Linked DNA regions of Homo sapiens. The protein of the gene in region 3 interacts with the protein of the main gene of each other region in a pairwise test. Each region holds a gene or a part of one and is shown on either strand. Other genes may lie near its edges. The genes, in order: PGAM2, KATNB1, KATNAL1 and KATNBL1.

The links.
Region 1: the proteins of KATNAL1 (region 3) and PGAM2 interact in binary tests that used the Homo sapiens proteins (3 or more experiments, as listed by UniProt).
Region 2: the proteins of KATNAL1 (region 3) and KATNB1 interact in binary tests that used the Homo sapiens proteins (3 or more experiments, as listed by UniProt).
Region 4: the proteins of KATNAL1 (region 3) and KATNBL1 interact in binary tests that used the Homo sapiens proteins (3 or more experiments, as listed by UniProt).

Annotation. Positions count from the first base shown.
Region 1 is NC_000007.14:44,062,540-44,070,297, forward strand, and holds PGAM2 (phosphoglycerate mutase 2), read right to left. Parts: upstream 3,029-7,758; 5' UTR 2,991-3,028; coding exon 2,577-2,990; exon of another isoform or gene 2,474-2,576; coding exon 2,293-2,473; exon of another isoform or gene 392-2,292; coding exon 225-391; 3' UTR 188-224; downstream 1-187. UniProt on the Homo sapiens protein: Interconversion of 3- and 2-phosphoglycerate with 2,3-bisphosphoglycerate as the primer of the reaction. Can also catalyze the reaction of EC 5.4.2.4 (synthase), but with a reduced activity.
Region 2 is NC_000016.10:57,752,770-57,757,774, reverse strand, and holds the end of KATNB1 (katanin p80 WD40 repeat-containing subunit B1), read right to left. Parts: intron 4,998-5,005; coding exon 4,847-4,997; intron 4,699-4,846; coding exon 4,508-4,698; intron 4,387-4,507; coding exon 4,256-4,386; intron 3,831-4,255; coding exon 3,780-3,830; intron 2,846-3,779; coding exon 2,778-2,845; intron 2,657-2,777; coding exon 2,537-2,656; intron 2,431-2,536; coding exon 2,281-2,430; intron 1,935-2,280; coding exon 1,858-1,934; intron 1,784-1,857; coding exon 1,709-1,783; intron 1,420-1,708; coding exon 1,303-1,419; intron 962-1,302; coding exon 829-961; 3' UTR 531-828; downstream 1-530.
Region 3 is NC_000013.11:30,297,532-30,304,561, reverse strand, and holds part of KATNAL1 (katanin p60 ATPase-containing subunit A-like 1), read left to right. Parts: intron 1-7,030. UniProt on the Homo sapiens protein: Regulates microtubule dynamics in Sertoli cells, a process that is essential for spermiogenesis and male fertility. Severs microtubules in an ATP-dependent manner, promoting rapid reorganization of cellular microtubule arrays.
Region 4 is NC_000015.10:34,200,068-34,207,097, forward strand, and holds part of KATNBL1 (KATNB1-like protein 1), read right to left. Parts: intron 1-7,030.

The DNA.
Region 1 (7,758 bases), on a different chromosome or scaffold from region 3:
TGCAAACTCATGGAGTGGTTGCAGCCCTGGCTCAGTGTCCTGATGACTAGGTGTGGGTACTAGGCTCCTGCCCCTGGTGACACACGTATGGAGTGGGGGAGGGTGGGTGGCTGCACCCCTGGTTCTGGAGTCCCCACAGCTGATGGCGGTGTGAGCCTGGCATGCACGGCTGCGCTGGACTCCAGGCTGTTGGGGGAGGTGCCTTTATTGCCCAAGCCCACCCCTCACTTGGCCTTGCCCTGGGCAGCCACAGCCTCCATGGCCTTCCGCACCGTTTCCTCATCACCCAGGAACTGCATGGGCTTGGTGGGCTTCAGCTCCTTGTTCAGCTCATACACAATGGGGATCCCCGTGGGCAGGTTCAGCTCCATGATCGCCTGGTCTGACATCCCTATGCCGGAAGGAATAGGTGTCCTTAGCCCCTCTGTCCCCAGCCTGTTTACACAGCAGACACTATGTGACCTTTATGGTCCACAGAGCCAGTTCCCCTGGCACCAATTCCTTCCCAGCCCTGAGAACGAGGCCACAGAAATGTTGCCAAAGGTCAAGGAGTAACTGAGTTAGACCAAGCAGCCTACAGAAATAGCCCAGTGGTGAAAAAAATGGGGACTTCAGCCCCACCCAAGTGGCTGTGATCTGTGGTGGTGCTGTCCATAGTTCCCTCAGCCCAGTGTGACTCCAGCCAGACTGAAGTTGAGGGTCAGGAAGGGACACTCACCCTTTGTTTTTTTTTTTTCTTTTCTTTTTCTTTTTCTTTTTTTTGAGATGGAGTTTTACTCCTCTTGCCCAGGCTGGAGTGCAGTGGCACGATCTTGGCTCACTGCAACCTCCATCTCCTGGGTTGAAGTGATTCTGCCTCAGCCTCCCAAGTAGCTGGGATTACAGGTGAGCGCCACCACACCCGGCTAATTTTGTATTTTTAGTAGAAACGGGTTTTACCATGTTGGTCAGGCTGGTCTCAAACTCCTGACCTCAGGTGATCTGCCTGCCTCAGCCTCCCAAAGTGCTGGGATTACAGGAGTGAGCCACCGTGCCCAGCACCCTTTGGTTTCTAAAGTGCTCTAAATTCTAGACATCCTGAACAGAGGAGCAAGTGCGGAATGGAGCTGGAGGAGGGACAGGGAGGCCGAGCCTGGTCGAAACCTGACCCTGCCTGCCTCCTGCAGCCCCTGAGCTGGGAATAGCAGCTCGACCTTTGATGTTCGCGCCACTCCACCCCTGCTCCGTGCAGGAGGGTTTAAGAAAATGTTCTCTGGGGAGTCAGAGTGAAATCCCTCATATTCACCACCAAAAGTGCGTCCCCTTTCCCCAAACCAGGCTGTGGGAGGGTCATGGGGCTGCATGAAGTCTCCGGAAGGGAGAGGAGGCAGGTGGTCCTTCCCTCTGCCTGGCCCCAGTGCCAGGTGCCAGGTGTCCGTGTTTGGAGCGGGCAGGCTTGGGGCTGGCTGGGTCTCCGGGGCCTGCCGGTCTGGGTGCTCTGGCCAACTGCCCAACGGCCCTAGGAGCAGGAGGTCTGGGGCACACCCTTCTAGCCTTTCCAGGACTCAACAAGCTTTAAGGTCATTCAGATGCTAATTTAGACTGCCCTTGTGTCAGAATACTAAGGTGGGAGGCGGAGCGGAGGTGCCAGTCACTCTGGGCGAGGCCTTACTGCGCCCATGCATCCCGGGCCCATTTGTCAGCCCTTGCTCTTCAGTGGGAGCCCAGCTGCAAGCCCAGAGTCTGGCCACTCCATAGTCCTGCACCCCTCTTTTGATTGGTCTTTCCTTTGCCCAGAGAGGGGCTCCAGAGGGAGATAGGTGGTGAAGCTCATGCAGGGATTCTGAGGACCTGATGGGGGAGGGCCCTGCGAGGGGTCCAAGCCTACATCAAGAGGAATTCAGTACCAGGGGGAGCTCCCCACCACCCCGGAAAAGGGAGAGGCCCAGAGATGGAGGTGGCTTGTCCAGGGCCCCACAGTAAGTTGGGATTTGGAGCCAGATGCTCTAAGCCCAGCCCTTCCGTTTCCTAGCTGGGTGTCCCTTGGCAGATGCCACCTTTGGAGCCTGCCCCACCTCGGGACACAGCGAGCTTCGAGTGCAGTCAGCCCCTGTGGAGTGTGTCCCAGTTACACAGAAATGGGGAAAATTTCACAAAACTAAAAAATGGCTTCTCAGCCCTCCTTTTTCAGTGAATGATGTGGAGCCCCACGCCTAGAAAGCCTGGTCCATGGGCGAGAGACTTTGCTGAGATGAGAAGCCAGCTGGGGCTGCTGCCCACCCACCCTGCCCAGGCTCCTGAAGGTGGCCTCACCTTCCAGGTGCTTGACAATGCCCCGCAGGCTGTTCCCGTGGGCTGCAATGAGCACTCGCTTGCCGGCCTTGATCTGGGGAACAATCTCCTCGTTCCAGAAGGGCAGGGCCCGGGCAATGGTGTCCTTGAGGCTCTCGCAGGTGGGGAGTTCCCCGGGCTTCAGGCCTGCGTACCGACGCTCCTGGGGGACACAGGCACGCTGCTTTCCCTCCCAAGCCAGTGGGCCCCCACCCGACTCCCCACTCTGCAGCTTCCCAGAGGCCTTCCCAGCAAAGGCAGCCCACCTTGCTAATGGAGTTGTAGTAGGGGTGCTTCTCGTCCATCGGGGGCGGCGGGATGTCGAAGGAGCGCCTCCAGATCTTCACCTGCTCCTCCCCGTGCTTGGCGGCCGTTTCTGCCTTGTTGAGGCCTGTGAGGCCCCCGTAATGCCGCTCATTGAGGCGCCAAGTGCGCACCACAGGCAGCCACATCTGGTCCGTGCCGTCCAGGATGGCCCAGAGGGTGCGGATGGCCCGCTTCAGCACTGACGTGTAGCAGATGTCAAACTCCATCTTGGCATCCTTGATGGCCTTGGCTCCCCGCTTGGCCTCCTCGGTCCCCTTTTCACTCAGCTCTGCATCGAACCAGCCACAGAAACGGTTCTCCTGGTTCCATGTGCTCTCGCCGTGCCGGACCATCACGAGGCGGTGAGTGGCCATGGTGGCAGCAGGGACCACAGAGGACTCTGGACGGGGACGGCTGCTTCCCAACACTCCCAGCTTTATAATAGTGTCTTCCCAGCCCCCACCCACCCCAGCCAACTGCCAATCAGCATTCCAGGCGGTGGCAGGTGACCAGTAGCTGAGCTGCTGGGGGCTGGGGGCCAGGGGAGTGTGCAGGCCAAGAGGCTGTGCTTAAAATAGCCCCACGCATCCACCAGCTCCTGGCCTGGGTTCAGGTGGCATGTCTATAACCAGCTGGCACCCAGAGCCCAGACTGAGTGGGGCTGCTGGTCAGGGATGGGCGTGAAGGGCAGAAGTCTGGGCCAGGGGAGATGGGGATAGCAGGGACAGAGGGGCTCTCCAGGGCAACGCTCAGTGGCCTATCAGCCATTCTCTGCTCAGACAGAGGCACAAACAAAATCCCAACCCCTTTCTCCTGTGATTGGCAGCCAGGCTAGGAGGCGGCCCTCAGCAGGCAGAGGAGGAGAGCCAGAGGAGCTGGTGCAGACCACAGCTTTGTGGAGAGGAGTCTGGCCTTGTGGAAGGTACCAGGCAGCAGCAGCAGAATGGGCAAGGGCTGGGGCTGAGCCGGGTTTCCAGGACAAAGGGGGAAAGGGCCCCTGTCTTTCCTCCGGGGTCCCTTTGTCAAGGTCTCATCCATACATGCCCCATGCTCCCACCCTATCTGCCCTCACCCAAGCCACGCTCACTCTCCTAGCCGAAACCACCTTGAAAAAGAGAAATCCAAGGGGGTTTGGGGGCAGGACTGAGGACTGTCAGAAGTCTTGATTGTTAGGTAAATGCTCAGCTTAGCAGGAACCCACAACGTAGGCTGAAGGGTGGCACGGAGTTGAGTCTAGGACCAAGACTTCTGCATTCAGGTTTGGGGGATGAGAGCCACCAAGGCAGGGAAGAGACTATGAGCAATAAAGTCACAATTGGGGCCCTAATGAAGGGGCCATGGCCAGACCCTTGGGCATGGGCCCCATCCAGGGCCTCCCATTTCCTCCCACCCCAGTGACCACACTGTCACCTGCGACACTTCTGATAACAGGAGCGGGTAGGTGAGAGGCCAGCAGAGGGACCACCACTCTGAGACTTGGATCTGAGTGTGCAAGAAACCCTCGACAGGCCTCCCTCCATCCCTGCTGGCCTACCTGGGGAGGGGCTCCTGGCTTGGGGCCTGTGAAGCTAAGGCTCTGTACCCAAAGGTTGGCAGACAAGTCCCAGTGGGCAAAGTCCTGTCGGCTGCCAGGACCCCCAAGGCTGGCAGGTGGAACCCATCCCTCCTAGCAGTGCCATGCGCAGGTCTCACTGTTCCACACTGATCCTGATTGAAGCCACATCTCCTCATCTGCTTTTGTCCCTTTGACCAAGAGTTGATTCACTAGCCCAACTAAACATGACTGAGGACCAGGCTCTGGCAGTCCCACAGGGGCCAGACATGAAGCCCATATTTCAGTGGAGGAGGGATCGTACCAGCAGCTAAACATGCCTACCGTAGATAGCACCAGATGCTAGGAAGGAAGGACCATAATGTACTGGGAGAGATGGGAAAGGAGAGGCCGGGGACAGCCCTGAGGTGACATGTGAGTGGAAAGAGCGGAGTGCAAAGGCCTCAGCTATGATGAGTCCTACAGGGAGAGCAATTCAGGTAGAGGGGTTGGCAAAGACCCAAGCCCTACAGAAAGCAAACAAGCTGGGGCAGCGACCATCAGGGGCACATGGCAGAGAGGTGGGCTTTGTGTCCCAACACAGTGGGAATCACTGGAGACTTTGAAGCATGGTCATATTTTCAAGTCACTTGCAGCTGTGTAGGAGTGGAAGTAGAAGCTGAGTACCCTGCAGGTCTCGGCAGCTTTGATGAGAACAAGGCCGCTTAGCCAGGGCTGGGTGCAGAAGCAGTGGCAAGGATCCCCCAGACCTGGGAGACCTCACTGCCAACCAAGCAGGAGGTGTCAAAAAGGAAAGGGGAGCCCAAAGAAGGGCTGGACTTCGGGGAAGCAAGCCCCTGCTTCTGACCCTTGGCTCCGGCTTGACTTTCCTTTGATTCATTTGACAAGTAGTTGCTGGCCTCTGCAGTGTGCCAGAGCTTTCTTGGAGGGGTACAGGGGTAGGAAAACCAAAAGCCACCCTCAGGGCCTCCATCCAGGAAGGCATAGCATGGTGGGCGGCGAGGAAGGCTGCTGAGTCAACAAGGTGGTCCCAGGAAGGTGGAGGGAGCATCTTCCCATGTCTCTCCCACTGACAGCCACCAATCCTGGACAGATGCAGGAGCAGCTGTCAGTAGACAGATAAGAAAAGGAGATCAGATTCAAAGTTCCGCAGAGAAGTGGTGAGGTAACAAGTATTGCCTAGCCTGGACACACAGGCGGCTTGAAACCTCAAGTGCACCAACAGAAAGAGCTCCAGGAAGAATCAGAGGAGTGGGATGTGAAGCCCCTCGAAGTCAGTGAGTTGGGGGAATCCCTCCAATTTTTCTTTTCTTCTCTACCCCAGCTCCTGGGCAGTAACATGGAGGTGGCAGTGGTGGCACAGTGACGGTAGTGTGAGCTGGGTACGCACTTGAAACCTGAGAGGGTAACGCTACCCTCTGTCTAGAGGAGCCATGGCCCCAAAAGCATGGGGCAACCACCTTCTGCAGCTCCTTTCTGCCCCCCTGCGCTGGGCCCTGGATGCAGTTTCAGGGAGTATGCAGCAGGGTAGGTAGGGAAAGAGCCCCAGATTTGTGGCTGGAGGTCTTGGTAGGGATGTTGCAGGGAGCTGTTGTGTTTCAGGGAGAGTACAGAGAAGGGAGAGATGAAGTGAGTGATCCGATAAAGTGATATGTGAAGTCATTGGCTTGCTGCCAAGCTGCGCACAGGGCTGACCCTAGATGCACATTGCAGGTCCCAGACTGACCGGTGTAGATACAGGACTAATATGACTAGTAGTGCAAACACTTTAAACAGTCAACATTCTGCTTAGGATTTAAACAAGGTCCAGAGTCTCAACATAATATTTAAAATATCCAGGTTATCCAAAATAACCCAGTGTATGAAAACCAGGAAAATCTTAACATGGGAGAAAAGAAGATGATCAATACATGCCCATCCTGAGATGATTCAACTATTGGAATGATCAGATACAGACTTCAAAGCAGCTATTTATAACCAGCCTTCAGAAAGTATTGGTGAATATTCTTAAACAGAATGGAAATGACAAAGCATGGAGTCCATAAATTAGATGATAGTTTGGAAAAAGATATAAACTTACAAACCAAGAAGCTCAGTGAACCACACAACTGGATAAATTAACAACAAAAGTCCAAGCTTAGACACATCATAAAGAAACTTCTGAAAACTAAAGACCAAGAAAAATAAGATCAGCCAGAGAAAAACGATACATTTCATTCAGGTGAACAATTCTTTGAAAGACTGGATCTTCACCAGAAACTATAGAGGCCAGAAAGAAGTGGAACATTTTTAGTTTTGAAATAACTGTCACCCAAGAATTCTATATCCAGTAAAAATTTCTATTTTACTGGAATAAAAGAATGAAATAAAGACATTCTCAAATGAAGGCAAGCTGAGGAAATTCATAACCAAAGAATCTGCTTTAAAAAAATGTTAAACCAAGTTCTTCAGACAGAAGAGATTACTGGGGGCAATTCAAAACTTTGGGAATGCAGGAAGAACATCATAAATGGCAAAAGTCCACATAAATATGAAACTATTCTTTACTTCTTTAAGAGTTATGTGATGGTTGAATTAAGTCATGATACTGTCTGATGGAGGCTTCAGTGTATACAGATGTAAGACAACTAGAACATGAGGGGAGAAGGGTGAAGGGACCTAGATGGTAGTGAGGTTTCTACATGCTACTTGAAATGGCAAAACATTAATCTAAATTGACTGTAAGAGTATGTGTATTTGGCCGGGCAGGGTGGCTCATGCCTGTAATCCCAGCATTTTGGGAGGCCAAGGTGGGTGGATCACCTAAAGTCAGGAGTTCGGGACTAGCCTGACCAACATGGCAAAACCCTGTCTCTATTAAAAATACAAAATTAGCCAGGTGTGGTGGTGCATGCCTGTAATCCCAGCTACTCGGGAGGCTGAGGCAGGAGAATTGTTTGAAATCGGGAGGCGGAGGTTGCAGTGAGCCAGATTGTGCCATTGCACTCCAACCTGAGCGACAAGAGCGAAACTCCATCTCCAAAAAAAAAAAAAAAAAAAACACAAAAAAACTATGTGTATTAGAACCCCTAGAACAACCACTATGTGTGTGTGTTGGGGGTGTGTGTGTGTGTGTATAGGGAGAAGGAGAGATAGGAGGGAAGGAAAAAAGGAAAGAAGAAACAGCAATGGAAAACAGGGAACAAACAGAAAACAACATAATGGTAGATCTAAAGCCAAACATTTCAATAGTTGCATTAAACATAAATGGCCTCATCACGCCAATTCGACATATTATCAGTTTGGATTATAAAAACCTAATTATATGCTGTCTTTAAGTAACTCACATTAAATATAACAGGATACAAGTAGGTTGAAGTAAAAGGTAACAACTCATTCTCTGAGGGCAGTATTACCCTGATACCAAACCCAGACAAACAACCTAAGGAAACTACAGACCAACCTCTTATGAGTACATATGCAAAAATTGAGAGTCCAGGGAAAAATCCTTCACACAATGGTTAATTGATTTTTGACAAGGGTGCCAAAATAATTCAATGAGTAAAGAATAGTATCTTTAACAAATGGTGCTGGGACAACTGGATTTCCAC
Region 2 (5,005 bases), on a different chromosome or scaffold from region 3:
ACCTTCCTCCAGTGCCGAGGACCCTGACCACCCCGGGGCGGGGCTGTACCTGGTCCCTGCCTTGGGAGCAGGAGGGGGCCCACCTGTCGCAGTGCCCACGGAGCAGGGAGCCCTTTCCCGCCAGCCAGTGCTGGGGACTCCAGCAGGGAGTGACAGCTGATCGGAGCCCTGCTCAGAGGAAGGGGCAGGTGCCCTTCTAGTCCTGCCCCTGGAGGCATCCTGGGGGTGTCCATAAGACAGCTTGAGTGTAGCTGAGGTGGGGAGGAACGGGCTGGTGGGGGCCACCCCTAACCTCAACACCCAGTGGTGGAAGGGTGGTTGCCGCCTCCCCTTCCTTCCCAGTCTGCACTGGCTGAACTGGTGCTGTCCCAGAGGCCTGATTCTCTGCTGCCCCCTGCTGGCCACATGGCCCAGAGCCCCACCCCCGGGCTTGGAGGGGGTGTGGCCTCATCTCAAACCATGGGGCAGGCACTCCTGGGCCCGGGGAGCCCTGTGGCCAGCAGAAAACATTCCCCACAAGGAAACCTGGGAATAGTTACAAATTTAATAAAATTTGCCTTATAAATTACAGCAGCAGCCCCAGGGCTCAGTTCGCTGCCCCAAGAAGCAACAGTTGGGCAAAGCTGGGCAGCTATTGCTGGAGAGAGTTGTCTCAAGAGTTCAGGGCTGTAGAGGTGGCCAGGGACCAGCATCACCTCCTCCAGGACGGCCACAGGACAGCAGCAGGGGCCAGGCAGAGGCTCATGGGCCAGTGGGTGCACAAGGAACAGGAGTGGGGGCTGAGGCCAGGCCCTGTGGGCTGCCGAGCGCCCCTGCCCACTGCTTTCCTCAGTCCAGACTGGCCATGAGCAGGTGCAGCTCGCGGAAGGTACTGCCATGGCGGCCGCTCAGGCCTGACTTGCTCTTGACCAGGCCGCTGATGCTCTTAAGCTGCTTGTAGCAGAGCCGGCACTTATGCAGCCTGTAGAGAGGGCAGTGCCTGAGGGGCTAGCTGGCACCACCACCACCCACACCCAACCCCAGGGCCTTTGCTGTCCTAACTGCTCCAGCCCTTCCTCCCAAGGGAAGGCGGAGGCCCAGAGGGGAACCACCCAGGCCCTGCCAGGGATTGTGGGCACAGCCAGGCCATGGAGGAACCCAGCTCTGGCTAAGCCCACCCACACCCTGAGCCATGGCCCCAGACCAACGCCTCCTCTGTACTCTGTCCCAGCAGGACTGTCAGTAAGAGGGGCCCAGGCCTCCAGGCCTTTGTCCCCTCACCTGTTGTGGCACCCCTGCCCCCAACACATGCGCTGCCCTCACCTCTCCTCCCTGCTGATATCCACACCCACAGAGGGTGGGGCCGCCAGCATGTCTGTGATGAGGGGCAGAAACCGCTGCAGGATCAGCTTCAGGGAGGTGCAGCCCGTCTGGACGTAGCTTTAGGGGGAGATGGATGAAGTCACAGATGGACCAAGGGCCACAGACAGAAAGAGAAACAGCAAGGAACAAAGGAGGAGAGGGGCAGAAACAGACACAGACACACCCACACATACACCCACACACGCCTGTTTCCACTCCCACCTCCGGACTGTTGAGGGGCAGCAATGCTTCACAGCCAGCTCACAGGAACACCCAGGCTCTTGGGGGTCCTTCCCATGGTTCTGGAGGAGGCTTCTTACCTCTCCCCTCCCCCTGCTTCAGGCAGGCATGGCTTCCCCACACGCACCTCTCATACTTGCTCTGCAGAAGCTTCTCAATCTGTGGCAGGACGGTGGTGCACAGGTCCAGCTTCCACAGGGAGCTAGGAGAGGCCAGGACATGCTGCCATCAGCCCAGCCCTGCCCCTCCGCCCACTCCCCCTCTGCAGCCACTTACGCTTTCTGGTTGACGATGTTCAGGAGGTCCACCACCACCGACAGGTCGTTGATGGCCACAGCGGAGTCCACCGACGTCTGTGCAAACAGAGCACCGTCAGGGGTGGGGCAGTGGGGGACAGTGTGGCCCTGTGAGGGTGAGGGTGGGGGTACGAACGTGAATGTGGGTGTGCTGATGGGGCTGTGGGTATTCAGCACTGCACCTAACGCAATGAGTGTAAGGCCAGGCATGTAAACAGATGCTCACTAAACGGCAGTCTGTGATGATGATGATGATGGCGGAAACAGATGGTGTGACGTCAGGGATGGCCTATCCCACACTGTCCCCCATGGGTGGCCTCTTCTTGTTCTGCCCCAAGCCCGGGCAGGCAGGTGGCAGGGGCAGGGGGGCGAGATGAGGCCCTGTGCAAGGGTGGGCACTTGCCTTGATGTCGCCCATGGTCCACACAGCCCGCACAGTGTCCAGGTTCTTGTGGCGGCTGGTGAGCACCACACACATGGTGTCGTGGCCTTTGCGGATCTGTGACATGGCATCCTCGTCCACCAGCTCGGCCTGCTGGGGGATCTTCACGGCCTGCGTGGGATGGACACCCAGATGCTGGCATGGGAGGAGCCAGCAGCAAAGCTCTGCCCTCCACCCACAGACCTCCACCCATGCCTCGAGCTGGGCTCCTACTCACGGGCAGGAAGTCGGAGGCCTTCAGCCCGATGGGCTCGTTCCGGGTGGCAGGGATGATGGCAGGCTCAGCCTTGGGTGCAGGTGTGGAAGCAACCACTGGGGGCCGGGGCAGGACCTCCAGCTGAAAGTGTGAAACTCAGCGGTTGCCGGCCTGGGGCCTCCCTCTCTGCCTCCCGAGGCACCCCCAACCCTGGGTCAGGACCTTCTCTAGGCCCCACACCATGCTCCCTCCATGGACATACATTTGGCACCGGGAACTGCACATCCATGGCAGGGCTGGGCTTTGCTGCCTCCTTTGCTGTGGCTGCGTCTGGAGGCAAAAGGAAAAGATGACTGGGTCCGGCCAGAAGGGCCTGGCAAGAAGGGCAGGGCTCAGGGCGGGACTCTGGGCAGCATCTGCAATGGGGGGATGGAGCAGGAGCATGGGGGAGGCTGCAGGCCAGTGGCGTGGGGGTTCCAGAGGACCTGGGGCAGGCCTGGACCTGCCTCCTCCCTCTCCCCCAACTCAACCTTAGGTCTGCCTGTGGGTGGGACCCAGGGGGCTCTAGGATGTGGCCATCCTGTCCCTTCACTGGCATGTATGTGGAGGGGGCTGGGATGACTGGCAAGATGGAAGTGGAGGCTCCTAGGAAAGCCAGGACTGACGGCAAGGACGGTCCCTGAGGGGAGGGCAGGGGTACTCTACAGGACAGGTGGCCCCATGCCTGCCCGTTCTCCAACCACAGTGCAGATCATTTTTCTCCCTTCTTAATCCAAACCCCCAGCTGAGGCCTTGTGGGCCTGACCTCTTGCTGGGACTCGCCCCAGCTCACCTCCTCTCAGCTCCCTTCCTGCCAGAAGCACTTCTCTCTCTCTCTTCTCACTGGCCCCCAGGCCTTGACAGGCATTGGGCCTCCTGAGAGCCTCCCGATCATCCCGTCTACAGCAGACCCCATCTAAGGTGGGCCCCCAGTGACTCCTCTCCATCCTCCACAGCCCGAGTGCCCCTGGCAGGCCCCCCAGTGTGGTGGTGTCCATGTTTGTCCCCCACACACCAGGGCACAGGCTCCTACGGGGGCACTATCGGTCTTGCAGGGACCTGGCACATAACAGGCAGAGGGCAGAGACCCAGCGGGAGAGGGTGTGGGTCGTGTCCTGAGAGGGGAGGGTCCTGGGAAGGGGCTTGTTGGGAGGGTTCACAGGAAGAGAAGATGAGGGACGGGGGGGCATCAGAGACCTTGGGAAACCAGGCTCACCCAACTCACCGTCCTCTGGGGGTGCAGGGAAGGGCTCACTTCTCCGGGGTGGCGTCCGACCTGCAGAGGAAAGAGGCCCCTGGCTGTGAGCGCTCCTGGCCAGGCCACCTGGGACCCAGGGCCCTGTCCAGAGTGCGGGGGACGGAGGGTAGCTCCCAGGCATGCGGCTGCAGACTGTGGACCCTGCTCCTGGTCCCAGGAACCCTCAGTCCTGCCCCTCCCAGCCCACTTGTCCCTGGCAGGGCAGGGACTGGGACACTGAGCAGCTGCTGGGCCGCTGCTGGGGAGTGCCCAGGCCCCCCTCTCAGTTCCATCAGAGCACAGCCTGGCAAGGCCCAGGGAACGTGAGGACAGGATACGGAGCCCAGGTGTGGGTTAGGAGGAAGTTAAAGGGATGCGGAGCCACAGCAGGCTACCCTGGAAGGACCCCCAGCCTCCCTTTCACCGATGGGGACGCTGGGCTGGGGGCGGGAGCCCGGCCTCACTGATGCTGTTCTTGGGCTGGAAGATCTCGTTGTAGTCCTCGGCGTTCTGGATCTCCGCGCGGGACTCGCGCTCGTCCCGGTCATCCTCGCTGCTGGGGCTGCGGCGCTCGCTCTCTGAGTTCTGCTTCACCCTGGGAGCGTGAGGCCAAGCCCAACGGAAGCAGGTGCCCTGTGAGGCCCAGGGCTGGAACTCCGAGGCTTCCCCTGTGACAGTCCCTCTCCTGGGCCCCCGAAGGCCCCCCAGGCCCTCACCTCTGAGGCTTGCTGCAGGTTGTGCTGGGCCGCTCATAGATGCGCCGGAGGGGGGCGCTGGGGTTGGGCAGTGGCTGTGCCAGGGGCCGGTGGTCCTGCACAGGGTCCCGGGCCACCGTGCCAGTCCTGGTGACACGCGTCAGATCCACCACGTAGGAGGAGACGTTGCTCTGGGAGAAGGCCACACCTATCTGCAGAAAGCGGAGAGGTGGGGCTGGGACTGCAAGCCGAGGGGGCAAAATCCCAGCCCCAGTGTGGGGGTAGGAGGAGGGGCCTGGGCTGGAGGGAGGCGGGTGGCCCTGTGGGAGTGGGGGGCGGTGGGTGCCATGGCTCTCTCACCAACTGGTCATTGCAGATGGCCAGGTCGGCCACCTTGCCCCAGTTGACGAGGACCACATCAAAGCACCGCTCAGGTTCCCAGCCGTAGACACGCAGTGAGTCCTGGCAGCCGCTGTACAGGCAGCAGCCGTCTGGGTTGAAGAGGACGCTCCTGGGCCA
Region 3 (7,030 bases):
GCGCAGTGGCTCGCGCCTGTAATCCCAGCACTTTGGAAGGCTGAGGCGGGCAGATCAGGAGATCAAGAGATCGAGACCATCCTGGCCAAGATGGTGAAACCTCGTTTCTCCTAAAAATATAAAAATTAGCTAGACATGGTGGCGCACACCTATAGTCCCAGCTACTCAGGAGGCTGAGGCAGGAGAATAGCTTGAACCCAGGAGGCAGAGGTTGCAGTGAGCCAAGATCATGCTGCTGCACTCCAGCCTGGTGACAGAGCGAGACTCCGTGTCAGGAAAAAAAAAAAAAAAAAGAGTTGTGTGTATGTGTTTGCGGGAGGAGCCTACAAATGAGACCCTAGTTAGGAGGCATAGAGGAAGAAGAACTGGGAGAGAGCATAACAAAGGAGGGGAAAATAAGGAAAGAAAGTAAGTTGTCTAATTTTGTGTCTCCAACTTATTTTCTGCATGATCATAGGCAGGTCTCCAAATCTGTACCCTTATTTCATATGAGGTGTTAATACTATTTATTTGATTTTGGGAAGTTGAAACAGTTTAGTGGAGGTAAACCCTAAAGTGCTCAACAACTGAAAGCATTTCTTCTCCCACTTCCTTACTAACAGTGTGGCAGGACTGCCAGTTCTGTCTGATAGAAAGGCCCTGTTCTAGACTTTACTTGACCATATTAAGCAGGTGGATCAGGTAGTAGTTATATTACAAAGTGATGATTAGAGTCTGAGGACTAATCAATTTTTTAAAATGAAGCTTCCGTTAATGCTATAAAATGTTATTGTATAGGGCATTAATACCAATGTACTTTTGCCTTGTTTTCATCTTCAAAGAAACAGGAAGTTCCACTAGATAATATGAGAGCTCAATGGCTCTAAAATTCTTCAATTCTGACAGTATTTAATGTCTGGACTGATTTGTGATTTCACTGATATTTGAGCATCTGTAAATGAAAATATGTTTATATTTTAATGTGCTCAAGAGTATTTCATTTTATTTTTATTTTTTGGAGACAGGGTCTGACTCTGTCACCTAGGCTGGAATGCAATGGTGCAGTCATAGCTCACAGCAGCCTTGAACTCCTGGGCTCAAGCAGCCTTCCTGTCTCAGCCTCCCCAGTGGCTGGGATTTCAGGCATGTGGCCACACCCGGCTCAACATTATTTTAAACATTTTTCTCTTCAGTGATAACTATACTTATATATGGTAGTCCCAGGGAAATTGTGCCCTAGAATACCTGATAAAAGTGAGATATGGGCATTTGCCAGATAAATTCAAGGCATAGATTGTGAGAGTAGTTTAAAAAAAATGGAGTAGTTTTTCAAGGTGGTTTAATCTTCACTGGATGTCTTTAGATATGTTTCTTTTGCTGGGGTATGGTTTGATTGTGGTCCTAACTGAACGGATGGCAAAGGAGTAAATGACCTTTTAAGTCCTTTTGTAACTTTGTTCTGTCCATTAGTAATTGTAAAAGCTCCTATTAGGCAGCCTATTAAAAAGTGAGCTTTGGTTTGAAATCTTATTCTTTTTAATATTTTGCTATGAAGCTGTTTTTAGTGAGCACTTTTTATAGTTTTTAATCATATCTCAGTATTGTTTTGCATTTTGTAAAGAATTTAATGCTTAGTTGCTGATCCCCCAATTGTATTTACTTCCCAGGGTATTATAGAACTCTTTAGAATGGTTATTTTGTGGACATTTATCAAACACATGTGCCTTGCATTTGAGTTCAAGAAACATTATTGTGTGTCTTTATGTCAAACAGTGCACCAAATGATACATGATACATGAATAAGATCTGGCCCCTCTCTCAAAGGATGTTACATTTCAGTCAGTGCTCAAACTAGTTTTGGTATACTCACTCTTGTGTTTTTTAAGGAAATCATCTCCAAAAAACAATGTATTTTATTTCTTATTTTCTTAGCTTTTACGTGTTTGAGGGACAAACAATATAACTTCATTTGCTGTATTTCAATAAGTTGTTCCTTTATTCTCGTTTATTCCTGTCTCTGTGAGTGTCTTTATATGTCAGTATTCTTTTCTTTCTGATGTTTTACTCTTTCCATTTTTCCTGGTGATTTGGCAGTAGGAAGAGAAATGAATGAGAGAATCAGTAGTGACTGTTTTTTTTTTCTGACCTACTTCTGTGAGAGTATGGATGACTGGTATTTAACACATAATTCCTGATATTTTTATACTTGTATTTTCTCTGCATTATTAGATATTATTTGAAGTCAAGAATTTTATGTTAGTGAACTCCACGTGGCCTTACATTGTTTCTTATATGTATATAGGTTATTTGCTTAATGTGGTAGGTGCTTACTAATTAGTTTAGATTGAATGATGAATGGATGAGTAAGTAAATATGATTATAAAATTACTTGTTCAAAGACTACTTGAGTCTGGGTGTGGTGGCTCTTGCTTGTTATCCCAGCACTTTGGGAGGCTGAGAGGGGCAGAAAGCTTGAGTCCAGGAGTTTGAGACAAGTTGCCTGGGCAACATGGCGAGACATCATCTCTGCAAAAAATACAAAAATTAGCCAGGCGTGGCTGCGCACACCCGTGGTCCCAGCTACTCAGGAGGCTGAGGTGGGAGGATTGGTTGAGACTGGGAGGTCCAGGTTGCAGTGAGCTGAGATTGCACCATTGCACTCCAGGCTGGGCGACAGAGTGAGACCTTGCCTCAAAAATAAATAAATACATACATACATACTTCATAAAATACAGTAATATGAAGCAGATGGTTTTGAAAGGTTTTAGGCTGTTCAAAGCACTATGAAATTAAAAAACAAGTAGTATTTAATTATATAGGCAACCACAACAAAATATCTTTATTTCTGTTAATAAGCCTTTTATATTTATTTTTAGATTAGCTGCGTAACTTTAAAGGAATTTGAGGCAGTAAATTGTAATGAGCCAGGAGGACAGGCTCTGAGTTAGACACATCTGGGTTCAAATCCAGGCTCTATGGGCAAATTATTTAAATTCTTTAAAGCCTCAGTCACCTCCTCTGCTAAATGGTGGGTAACTGTTACTGTTTTGTAGTGTTATAAGGATTAGATGAGATAATGCCTAGAAAAACATTTTTATCGTATTACTTGGTGGGGAGTTAGCATTCAATAAACATCGCTACTATTATTTTTGTGCTAAAAAGGGTATTTATGCAATTAGATAAAGTTTATAGGGTTTTTTTTGTTTGTTTTTTTCAGACAGAGTCTCACTCTTGTCGCCCAGGTTGGAGTGCAGTGGCGCCATCTCGGCTCACTGCAACCTCCGTCTCCTGGGTTCAAGCTTCTGCCGCCTCAGCCTCCTGAGTAGCTGGGACCACAGGCACTCGCTACCACGCCCCGCTAATTTTTGTACTTTTTTAGTAGAGACGGGGTTTTGCCATGTTGGCCAGGCTGGTCTTGAACTCCTGACCTCAGGAGATCCGCCTGTCTAGGCCTCCCAAAGTGCTGGGATTACAGGCGTGAGCCACCATGCCTGGCCAAGTTTATAGTTTAAGCTGTCATCTTGAGACACAGTAACAGATGATCCACATTTTCTGTCCTTTGTAATATTTTAAAGCTGCCAGTAGAATTTAGAACATGAGCAGAAATTACTGTGATGGTTACTTTTGAGAAACGTTTAAGCTCTTAGAACCCTATATTAGTATCTAGATTCTTTTATGTTTATGAACAGTTTTTTTTTGTTTCTAAAATATTTGAGAAGTGATTTGTATACATGTAAAAAATAAATGAAAAGCCTTAATTACTACATACATTCTTCTGTAATGTCTGGGTTTGTGGTTGTTTTCTTTATTATTCATGGCAAACTGTAGTCCTTGAGACTATTACCCAAAATAAAGAGATGGGAGGTATTGTGGTTTTCAAAATTAACTATTTGGTTGATTAGTACTCACATAGTAGGTTCATTTATTGTGCTTGAAACATACTTCAGGATGCATTAATTTGAGAAGTCATGGTTATGTGTTTCCTTAATTGCTTTTATTTATAGCAGCCATTGTATGACATAAACTGGACTTCGGTGATTTGGAGAAACTTTTTTTTTTTTCATTAAGCATGTAAAGCCTGGACATATTGATAAAATTCATTGTGGTACAAAATATTGAAAATAAAACTTGATTTGTTGTTTTGCTTACCACTGTTCTAATTAGTGTTATTTAGTTCACATTGCTATAGTTCAGGTTACTTAGGTGTTTCTGAAATAGGCATCTACTTTCAGGAATTTACAACTTTTAGGAGGAAAAGGAACAATAGGAGAAAAATATGGAAGTGTCAGAATAAAAATAGTTTAAAGCAGAAATTATTTTCTTAGCCTCATATGTATTGTAAGTATAACTGAATTAGATTGACATCATTCACATAAAATTAGTTTAAAAAATGTTTTGTTTCCTCTTCAAAAACCATTACTGTGGAGACAAAAGAATGATAAATATTATGATTTCATTTGTAAAAGGAATTATGAGTGACATCCCTGGTGGGATTGGGTTCTGGATACAAGCTAGCTTTTCATTTTTTCAATTATATGTCTTAGTCTTGGCATGAGATAAAAAATTCAAGTATGTTGGGAGAGAATGTGTGTGTGTGTGTGTTGTGGGTGATGGTAGATTTAAAGGAGAGAACAGAAAGGTTGGAGATGTAGCTGAAAAGATGGCTTTATGTGTTACATTTAGATCTGAGTCATGAAACAGTTACAAAAATAATTATCTGGAACCAGATAAAGCAGTATTCCTTCTTGATCTGAGCATGAACTTGGACTGAGCTCTTCTCAGTCTGAGCCTAGAACTCTCCTTGAAGGTATTATCTGGAGCATTCTGTATAGGGCAACTTTGCTGGGTCAGTTCAGCAGTAAATACTGTAAGAAGATGCTTAATTTATTTTTGAATACATAATCTCAAAATAAGAGACATTGTCAAATATTAGACATTGCTAAAATATTTTGTCTTTAGATTTAACCTGACATTTTAAAAAGACCTAGAAATTCTTCTAATTTATATTAAAGGAGATTTAAAAAACTATGTTTCAAGATTATGACTAAAAATAATTTTAGTATAGCTTCTAGAAATTTATAATGAAAATTGAATCAGTTGATTTCTTTTTTTCAGAGGAAAAATTAACTGCTTCAGTTATCTGCATTGATGTTGAGTGTAGAGTAAAAATATTCCTTATATTGATTCAGTGTTGTATGTGAGGAATGATGTTAACATATGATCACATTTAATTTTTAAAATAACCTTATGATAAATATTATTTTTCCTATTTTGTAGACAGAATTGAGGCTTATTGAAATTATATGATTTGCCTGAGGTCACAACTAAAAATTTATGGTGCCTGGATTCATATCCAGGCTTTTCTGTCTGAAATTTTTATGTGGCCTTTATCAAACATAAACTTGAATGGTTTGGTATACAATTCTAGGTTGCCAACCCCCTACACCCTTACCCCTTGGAAGATATTATTTCATTGTCTCCAGGCTCCCACTGTTCCTCTTGAAAAGTTAGCTGTCAATATAATTTCTTTCCTTTGTATATAATTTGTCATTTCTTTCTGTTTTAAATGTTCTTCAGTCTTACTACCTTGTCTCTAGGTGTGAACTTTGATTTGCTTTGAAACTGAAAATTATTGTCTTCTGTTAGTTTTGGAAAATTCTCAGCCACTGTATTTTTGAATTTTGCCTTTCTTTTTTCTCCTGGAATTCATAATAGACATACATGATGGATCTTCTCTTTCTACTCTGTTGCATTTCTTAATCTTATTTACTTATTCTCTATATGCTGCATTCTGGTCAGTTTCTGCAGCTCTGTCTTCTGGTTTATTGATTCTCCTTTTATCTGTGTCTAATCTCTTGCTTCCTCAGTCCACTGAGTTTTGTTTTTATTTCAGTGACTATATATTTTAATGCCAGAAGTTCTTTTTGATTATTTTTCAAATAAGCTTATTTATTTTAAAATTTCTTGTCCCTATGTCTTTAAATGTACTTATTTTACAGTAGCTAAAAAGGCCTTAATTTTGCTTTATGTTGTATTAATTCTCCCTCATAGTGGATTGCTTTCTTTGTATCTTGTAATTTTAGATGTAAACTCAGTGGAAATAAAGTAAAGCCTGGGTAAATGATATGTCCTGTACTTTTGTGATTTGTTTCTGTGAAGTGCGCTATGGAGAACTGATGAGTGAATAAACAAATTTTAGTATGTCTATATAATGGGATACTACTCAGCAATAAAAAGTAATTACTGATACATATAAGGGCATAGTTGAATCTCAAAAGCATTATTCTAAATGAAGGAAATCAGAGTATATACCATATGAGTTTATTTATTTTGCATTCTAGAACTGACAAAACTGCAGGCATACTTGAGAGATACTGTGGGCTTTGTTTCAGACCATTTTGGTAAAGCAAATATTGCGATAAAGCTAGTCACACAAATTTTCTGGTTTCCCAGTGCATATAAAAGTTACGTTTACACTATACTATAGTTTATTAAGTGTGCAATAACATTACGTCTAAAAAATGTACATGTCTCAATTTAAAAATACTTTAAAAATTTTTAACTTTTATTTTAGATTTAGGGGGTACATCTGCACGTTTGTTACATGGGTATATTGCATGATGCTGAGGTTTGGGATATGAATGATCCCGTCACCCAGAGAGTGAGTGTAGTAGCCAAAAGATAGTTTTCCAACTCTTGCCTGCCTCCCTCCCACCTCTATTAGTTTCCAGTGTCTGTTGTTGCCATCTTTATGTCTAGGAGTATCCAATGTTTAGCTCCCACTTATATGTAAGAATATGTAGTACTTGGTTTTCTGTTCCTGCATTTATTTGTTAAGGATAATGGCCTCCAGCTACATCCATGTTGCTGCAAAGGGCATGATTTTGTTCTTTTTTAAGACCATATAGTATTCCATGGTATATATGTACCACGTTTTCTTTATCCAATCCACTGTTGATGGATACCGAGATTGATTCCATGGCTTTGCTATTGTGAATAGTGCTGCAGTGAAGATACGAGTGCATGTGTCTTTTTGGTAGAATGATTGGTT
Region 4 (7,030 bases), on a different chromosome or scaffold from region 3:
AGCTAGACACAGAGCACTGATGGGTGCATTTACAATCCTCTGGCTAGACAGAAAAGTTCTCCAAGTCCCCACCCAACCCAGAAACCCAGCTGGCTTCACCTCTCACCTACTCGGAACAACTCAAAGTTGATATCTCAAGGGTTTAATATTTCCTGAATGATGATTCATCACACCACTTTCTCTCTCTCTCTTCTTTTTTTTTTGAGATGGAGTCTTCCTCTGTCTCCCAGGCTGGAGTGCAGTGGCGCCATCTCGGCTCACTGCAACCTTCGCCTCCCGCATTCAAGAGATTCTCGTGCCTCAGCCTCCTGAGTAGCTGGGATTACAGGTGCGTGCCACCACGCCCAGCTAATTGTTTTTTTTTTTTGTATTTTTAGTAGAGATGGGGTTTCACCATATTGGCCAGGCTGGTCTCGAACGCCTGACCTCTTGATCCACCTGCCTCAGCCTCCCAAAATGCTGGGATTACAGGCGTGAGCCACCACGCCCCGCCCACCACTTTCTCTTAATTCAGTTTTCCACAGTAAGCTGATTTGAGAAATAACGTCAAACTCGGGAAAGCAGATCAAGCATGAAAATAAAGACAGATGTCTGGAGATTCAGTGGGTACAATACTATATCATTTCAATCAATTTGGATCAAACTGAATTCCAACTCTCTTATGACTGAGATACCCTGAAATAAAAATTACAAAAGAGATGCCAAGTGGGAATTAGCTTTCCTACTACCTCTTCCTCAGTGTTTTTGTTTTGTTTTGTTTTGTTTTTTGAGACAGCGTCTTGCTCTGTCGCCAGGCTGGAGTGCAGTGGCGCCATCTCAGCTCACTGCAACCTCTGCCTCCCAGGTTCAAGCGATTCCCCTGCCTCAGCCTCCCAAGTAGCTGGGATTACAGGTGCACACCACCACACCTGGCTAATTTTTTGTATTTTAGTAAAGACAGGGTTTCACCATGTTGGCCAGAATGGTCTCGATCTCCTGACCTCGTGATCTGCCCTCCTCGGCCTCCCAAAGTGCTGGGATTACAGGCTTGAGCCACCACACCCGGCCTCTTCCTCAGTTTTAATCAAGTCCACTTAGATTACTACATTAGGGAACTGGGACTAATAATGGGAAAATAAAATTAAAGAACTAGGTAGATGTTTATCACCATCCATAGTTGTGGACCTACACAGGCTTTTTAAAAAACATAACTATGCCTTATACTGGAAAGTAGGGAGAAAAAAGTAAGGTAGCAAAACACTATGTTACCACTTAGGTTAAAAAGTGTGTGTCTGTGAGGGACTACTTGTATATTCACTAAATATCTTTTGAAGGATATGAGAGAAACTGGGGACAAAAGTCACTTCTAGTGAGAGGATATGTGTGGCTAGGGGGTGAAGGGAGAAGACTTTTCCCTTTTGGGCCTTTTGAATTTTGTATAATGTGCAAGTATGTTTTAACTTAATTATAATGTATTAGAGTATTATATACATATTTTCTTAAATGGCTATAAAACACCTGAATCTTTGGGAAGACTTAGGACTTCTTACGCCTAGAAGTAGATGGTTATGATTATTCTAGCATGTTTTGGTGAATTCGCCAAATTCCAATTTACTTTCCCTGTTAGAATAACCCAGTATTTTCTGGAAATATTCAACAGGGAGGAAAAAATACTTGATTCTGTTTTAATTGTCTTCTTGGACTCAGAAATGGAAAATATATATACAACTGGCCCTCTGTATCCGTGGGTTCAGCATCTGTGGATTCAATCAATTCCCAATCAAAACTATTTAGAAAAAAAATACATCTCTACTGAATATGTAGACTTATTTTTCTCATCACTATTCCCCCAATAATACAGTATAACAACTATTTACATAGCATTTACATTGTACTAGATATTACAAATAATTTAGAAATTATTTAAGGTGTATGGGAGGATGTGCAAAGGTTATGTGGAAATACTACACCACTTTATATCAGGGATTTGAGCATCCTCGGATTGTGATATCATTGGGAGGTCCTGGAACCAATCGCCCATAGATAATGAGGGATGAATGTATACATACATAAAACATTGTCACTTTAAGGATCATTTTTGACCCTTGTTTGCCTACTAAAGGTATTTCTGATACTTTCAAAACCAATAGACTCTCTACATATGAGAGGATATACCAATAAAGTAGTATTCAACTCTCAAAATGATGAGCTAATATAAATTAATTAAAAAACTCTATCTTCATTATTTGGACTAATGTCACCACCCTACGACACTTGTGCCTAATTTCTACAGTACCAGAAGTCAACAGGGTTAAGTATACCCTAAGCCTTGGAAAAAAGGGTAGATCATCCTTTAAGAATTAACAAAAATGATACTAGAGACATTCAAAATCTTTTTATAACAACGGTTCTTAAACCTTTATGTTCCAAAACTTGTGAGGATTATATTACATCCCCAACAGTTACAGTGGTTGGGCACCACCATATCTCCTAGGCTGAAATCAGAACGTATATTAAGGTTTGAAAATGCCTCCTCTCTCAGGGAACACTTTCTTCTCCAACAGAAGAATCACTTGCAGGCTCAAGAAAATATGACTCCTGTGTCCAAGACTTAACTATAACAAAAATTAACATATTAACTTTCATTTAAGAATAAAATCTCGGCCAGGCGCGGTGGTTCACGCCTGTAATCTCAGCACTTTGGGAGGCCTAGGTGGGCGGATTGCCTGAGGTCCGGAGTTCGAGACCAGCCTGGCTAATACGGTGAAAACCCATCTCTACTAAAAATACAAAAATTAGCTGGGCATGGTGGCAGGCACCTGTAATCCCAGCCACTGGGGAGGCTGAGGCAGAAGAATTGCTTGAGCCCGGAAGGCGGAGGTTGCAGTAAGCCAAGATCACGCCATTGCACTCCAGCCTGGGCGACAGCAAGACTCTGTCTCAAAAAAAATAAAAATAAATAAATAAAATCTCTCATCATACTGTTTCACCTAAACTCTGGATTCAAATCTCCAACTGCCTACTAGCCAGCTCCACATGGATATCCAATAGTCATCTATTCTTGAACTTAACATATTAAAAATAGAACCCTTAATATCCCCCCTCTCAAATCTGCTCCTCCCAACAGTCCCTAACTCAGTAAACGGAACCATCCTCCTTCCAATTTCTCAAGCCTGAAATAAAGGATTCATCCTTGATTTCTTTTTTCCTTAATAACCTACATCCAATTTGTTGACTTTGCCTTTATAATATATTCCCAAGCTGTCCGTTTCTTTCCATTTCCATTACCACCATTCTAGACCAAACCACCAACTCCTTTAGACTATATAATAGCTTCCTAAATGCTTCAGCCACACTGGCCTTCTGTCCTTCAACATTTCAAACTTATTTCCATTTTGTGGCTGAGCCATTCTTTCTGCTTAAAATATTCCTCCCACACACTCACCACCCAATCAAGAATAACCCCACCCTCACTTACAATCATTCTCTATAGCAGTACCCTGTATTTTTCCCCCACCACATTTATCACCATCTGGAAATTAGCTTATGCACTTATTGCCCATGACCTCTCACTAGACTGTGAGCTCCATGAGAGCAGGAACCATGTTCATTGTACCTAGAATAGATACACTTATTCTGGTATCTATTTTTTCTTTTTTTGAGATGGAGTCTTGCTCTGTCTCCAGGCTGGAGTGCAGTAGCACGATCTCAGCTCACTGCAACTAACTCAAGGACAGAAAACCAAACACTGCATGTTCTCACTCATAAGTGGGAGTTGAACAATGAGAACACATGGATACAGGGAGGGGAACATCACACACCGGGCCCTGTTGGGGGGTGGGGGGCTAGGGGAGGGATAGCATTAGGAGAAACACCTAATGTAGATGACGGGTTAATGGGTACAGCAAACCACCATGGTATGTGTATACCTATGTAACAAAGAGCACATTCTGCACACGTACCTCAGAACTTAATTAAAAAAAAAAAAAAAAAAGAGCCAGTGTGTGTGATTCACTCCCATTACCTTACCTCTAACCATCAACAGGTAACCAACAACAGGCCAGAAAGTTAAGACTCCCCTGTCCACATTGCTAAGCAAGGAAAACTAGGAGCACAGGCCCAGACAGCTCATGTGTAACATGAACTGAGGAAAAATAAACCTCTGAAATAAGCCACTGAGATTTGGGTGCTGTTTGTTACTACAAAATCACCTAGTCCATCCAGACTGATGAACTGTTCAAGCAATGCTGTGGGCACAGAATGATTCAGTCAGTCCCACTAAGTGGTTACTTGCAATGTAAACTGATGTCACTAGATATACATATTTAATTCTTTTCTTATTACAGTTGTCCCTCAGTATCTGAGTACGGCTGGTTCCAGGACCACCTCAGATACCAAAATTCGTGGATACTCATGTCCCCTAGTCAGCCTTCCGTATTCATGGCTTCCATACAGAGAACCCATGGATGCTGAGGGTAGACTGTATTACCTAGTTTCCAACAGGTCTGTCAACAAGGATCAAAAAAACTGTTTACATGGAGTTTTAAGGAATTCTTGTCTCTAATGCTATTTTTCACTAAATGGATAATTCACTCAAACAATGAATGCCACCCATACAGGCTTCTTGAAAAACCATCTGCCAGACTTTCTTCAACTGGAAACATACTTTGTAGGCAAGAATAACTGCTTTTTGTTTCCTTATTTTCTATACCAACTATTCAATAATTAAGTAATTATTGAGTACAGGCCACTGTAAGGGAAAAGAATAAAAAGGTAGTTGGCTAAAATGCAGAAGTCCCTGAATGCTAGGTCAGGAATTTGGACTTTATCTTGTAGACAAAATAGACTTACTGAGAAACTTTGTATACGAATTATATGTGAAAAAACTATTCTTGACGATTATTTATATGGCAGTTGTGGAACAGGAAGGCAAAGAGGGACAGTTTTTTTTTTTTTTTTTTCCTTTAAGATGGAGTCTCGCTCTGTTGCCAGGCCGGAGTGCAGTGGTGCAATATCGGCTCACTGCAACCTCCGCCTCCCGGGTTCAAGTGACTCCCCTGCCTCAGCCTCCTGAGTAGCTGGGGCTACAGGTGTGCACCACCACACCCAACTAATTTTTTGTATTTTAGTAAAGACGGGGTTTCACTGTGTTGACCAGGATGGTCTCGATCTCTCGACCTTGTGAACCGCCCACGTAGGCCTCCCAAAGTGCTGGGATTACAGGCATGAGCCACTGTGCCTGAAGAGTGCCAGTTTTTAAATGCTATGCCATGAATCCTCCATGGATGAAAGGCCAAATTTTAATCAATATATATAATTCATTTTTGCTACAACAGTAAATGTCCTGTTATTGATTATATTAAGTGTAGCACAGGGAATGGCTAGGACATAGGTTTTTGAAAGTAAGAGTAAAATGCATACTGAAATGTCAAGCTGGCACTTAAGTATGTGGTGATGGTCAAAATCTTACTCTGTGAGTAAGAGGGGCAGCCAGGGCAGTAATCGCTTAATAGTTCTGAAAGGCGATTAAGTGAACAATAGACACTTTGCTACTGCTGGGAGGTATTTTTACATTGTAGGAATGATGGGTTGTACTCTGGTTGGTTTGCATTTTGAATTCCTTCAAGATACTCAGAGCATCTGCGCAGTACTCCAACAAATTTTATCTTTCCCCAGCAACCCATTCCTTCATTTCTTCACTCGTTCAACAAATATTAAGTACATGTTACAGACTAATTACTATTCTACGCACTAGGGAAACATCAGTGGACCAAACAAAAATCCCTGCTGTACTGAAGCTTATATTCTACTGGCCTTTAAATTCCATCCTAAGATTTCTTCCTCAATCCTATCATATAAGTAGCTTTTAAAAATGCCTTTAGGAGAAATAATCTATGATTAATCACACTAAGATGTAAAAGACTATCCAGAGGCCTCTTCCCCACAGGTCTCCCTCCTCACCAAAGAACACCCCTCAATAAGTAACTATTTTATAGATTCTCGACCTTGGAGATAATTTCAGATGAGATTAAATCACTTGCCCAAAAACCCTTAGTTACTAACAGGCTTAGCGTTGCGACTTACAGTAATAGTGCCTTTCCCACTGTAACACCAAGCTGTGCATCTTAAGAGTATGCTAGTGGGCAGAGGAGATGCTAGAATGAGCATCTCATGACTCATACATAGGTGGTAGGTTTCTGGGTGACTTGCTCAAGGCAAAAAGAATTTCAGACAGTATATAAAACTGAAGGAGAGAGAGGTAGTTACAGGAAGCAAAAAAGGGAGTCCTTTCAAAATACCTTTTCTCTCATTTCTACCCTCATTATGCTCCAAGAACAAGAATGGTAAATATAACGCAGAAGTCTCCAAAGTTAAGGGGTATTAAGCTGGTAGTGAAAAAATACTTAGATGAGCAAGAAATAGTAAACACAGCATTTGAACCTGGCAAAGAAAAGTCAAATTACGCCGGGCATGGTGGCTCACGCCTGTAATCCCAGCACTTTGGGAGGCCGAGGTGGGCGGATCACCTGGGTCAGGAGTTCAAGACCAGCCTGGCCGACATGGCGAAACCCCGTCTCAACTAAAAATACAAAAATTACCCGGGCGTGGTGGTGGGTGCTTGTAATCCCAGCTACTCAGGAGGCTGAGGCAGGAGAATAGCTTGAACCCGGGAGGTGGAGGTTGTGGTGAGTCAAGATCTTGCCACTGTACTCCAGCCTGGGAGACAAGAGCAAGACTCCGTCTCAAAAAAAAAAAAAGAAAAGAAAAGTCAAATTACACCCTTCCAATTTAAAAAGTGTATGCTCCCAGTAAAAGTACCATTTGTATTAGGTTTAAGGTGTTTAATTAAAAAACATTATATTCCTAAATACATTTTCCAGAAAGCACCAAATTAACTAACATGGATCAACAAATATAATGATTGATAAAACATCAACATAATACTGACTAGTGTAATGTTATGATGCATCTTGTTGTTACTAGACAATACTTTTTTTTTTTTTTTTCCCTGAGACAGGGTCTTGCTTTGTCACCCAGGCTGGAGTGCAGT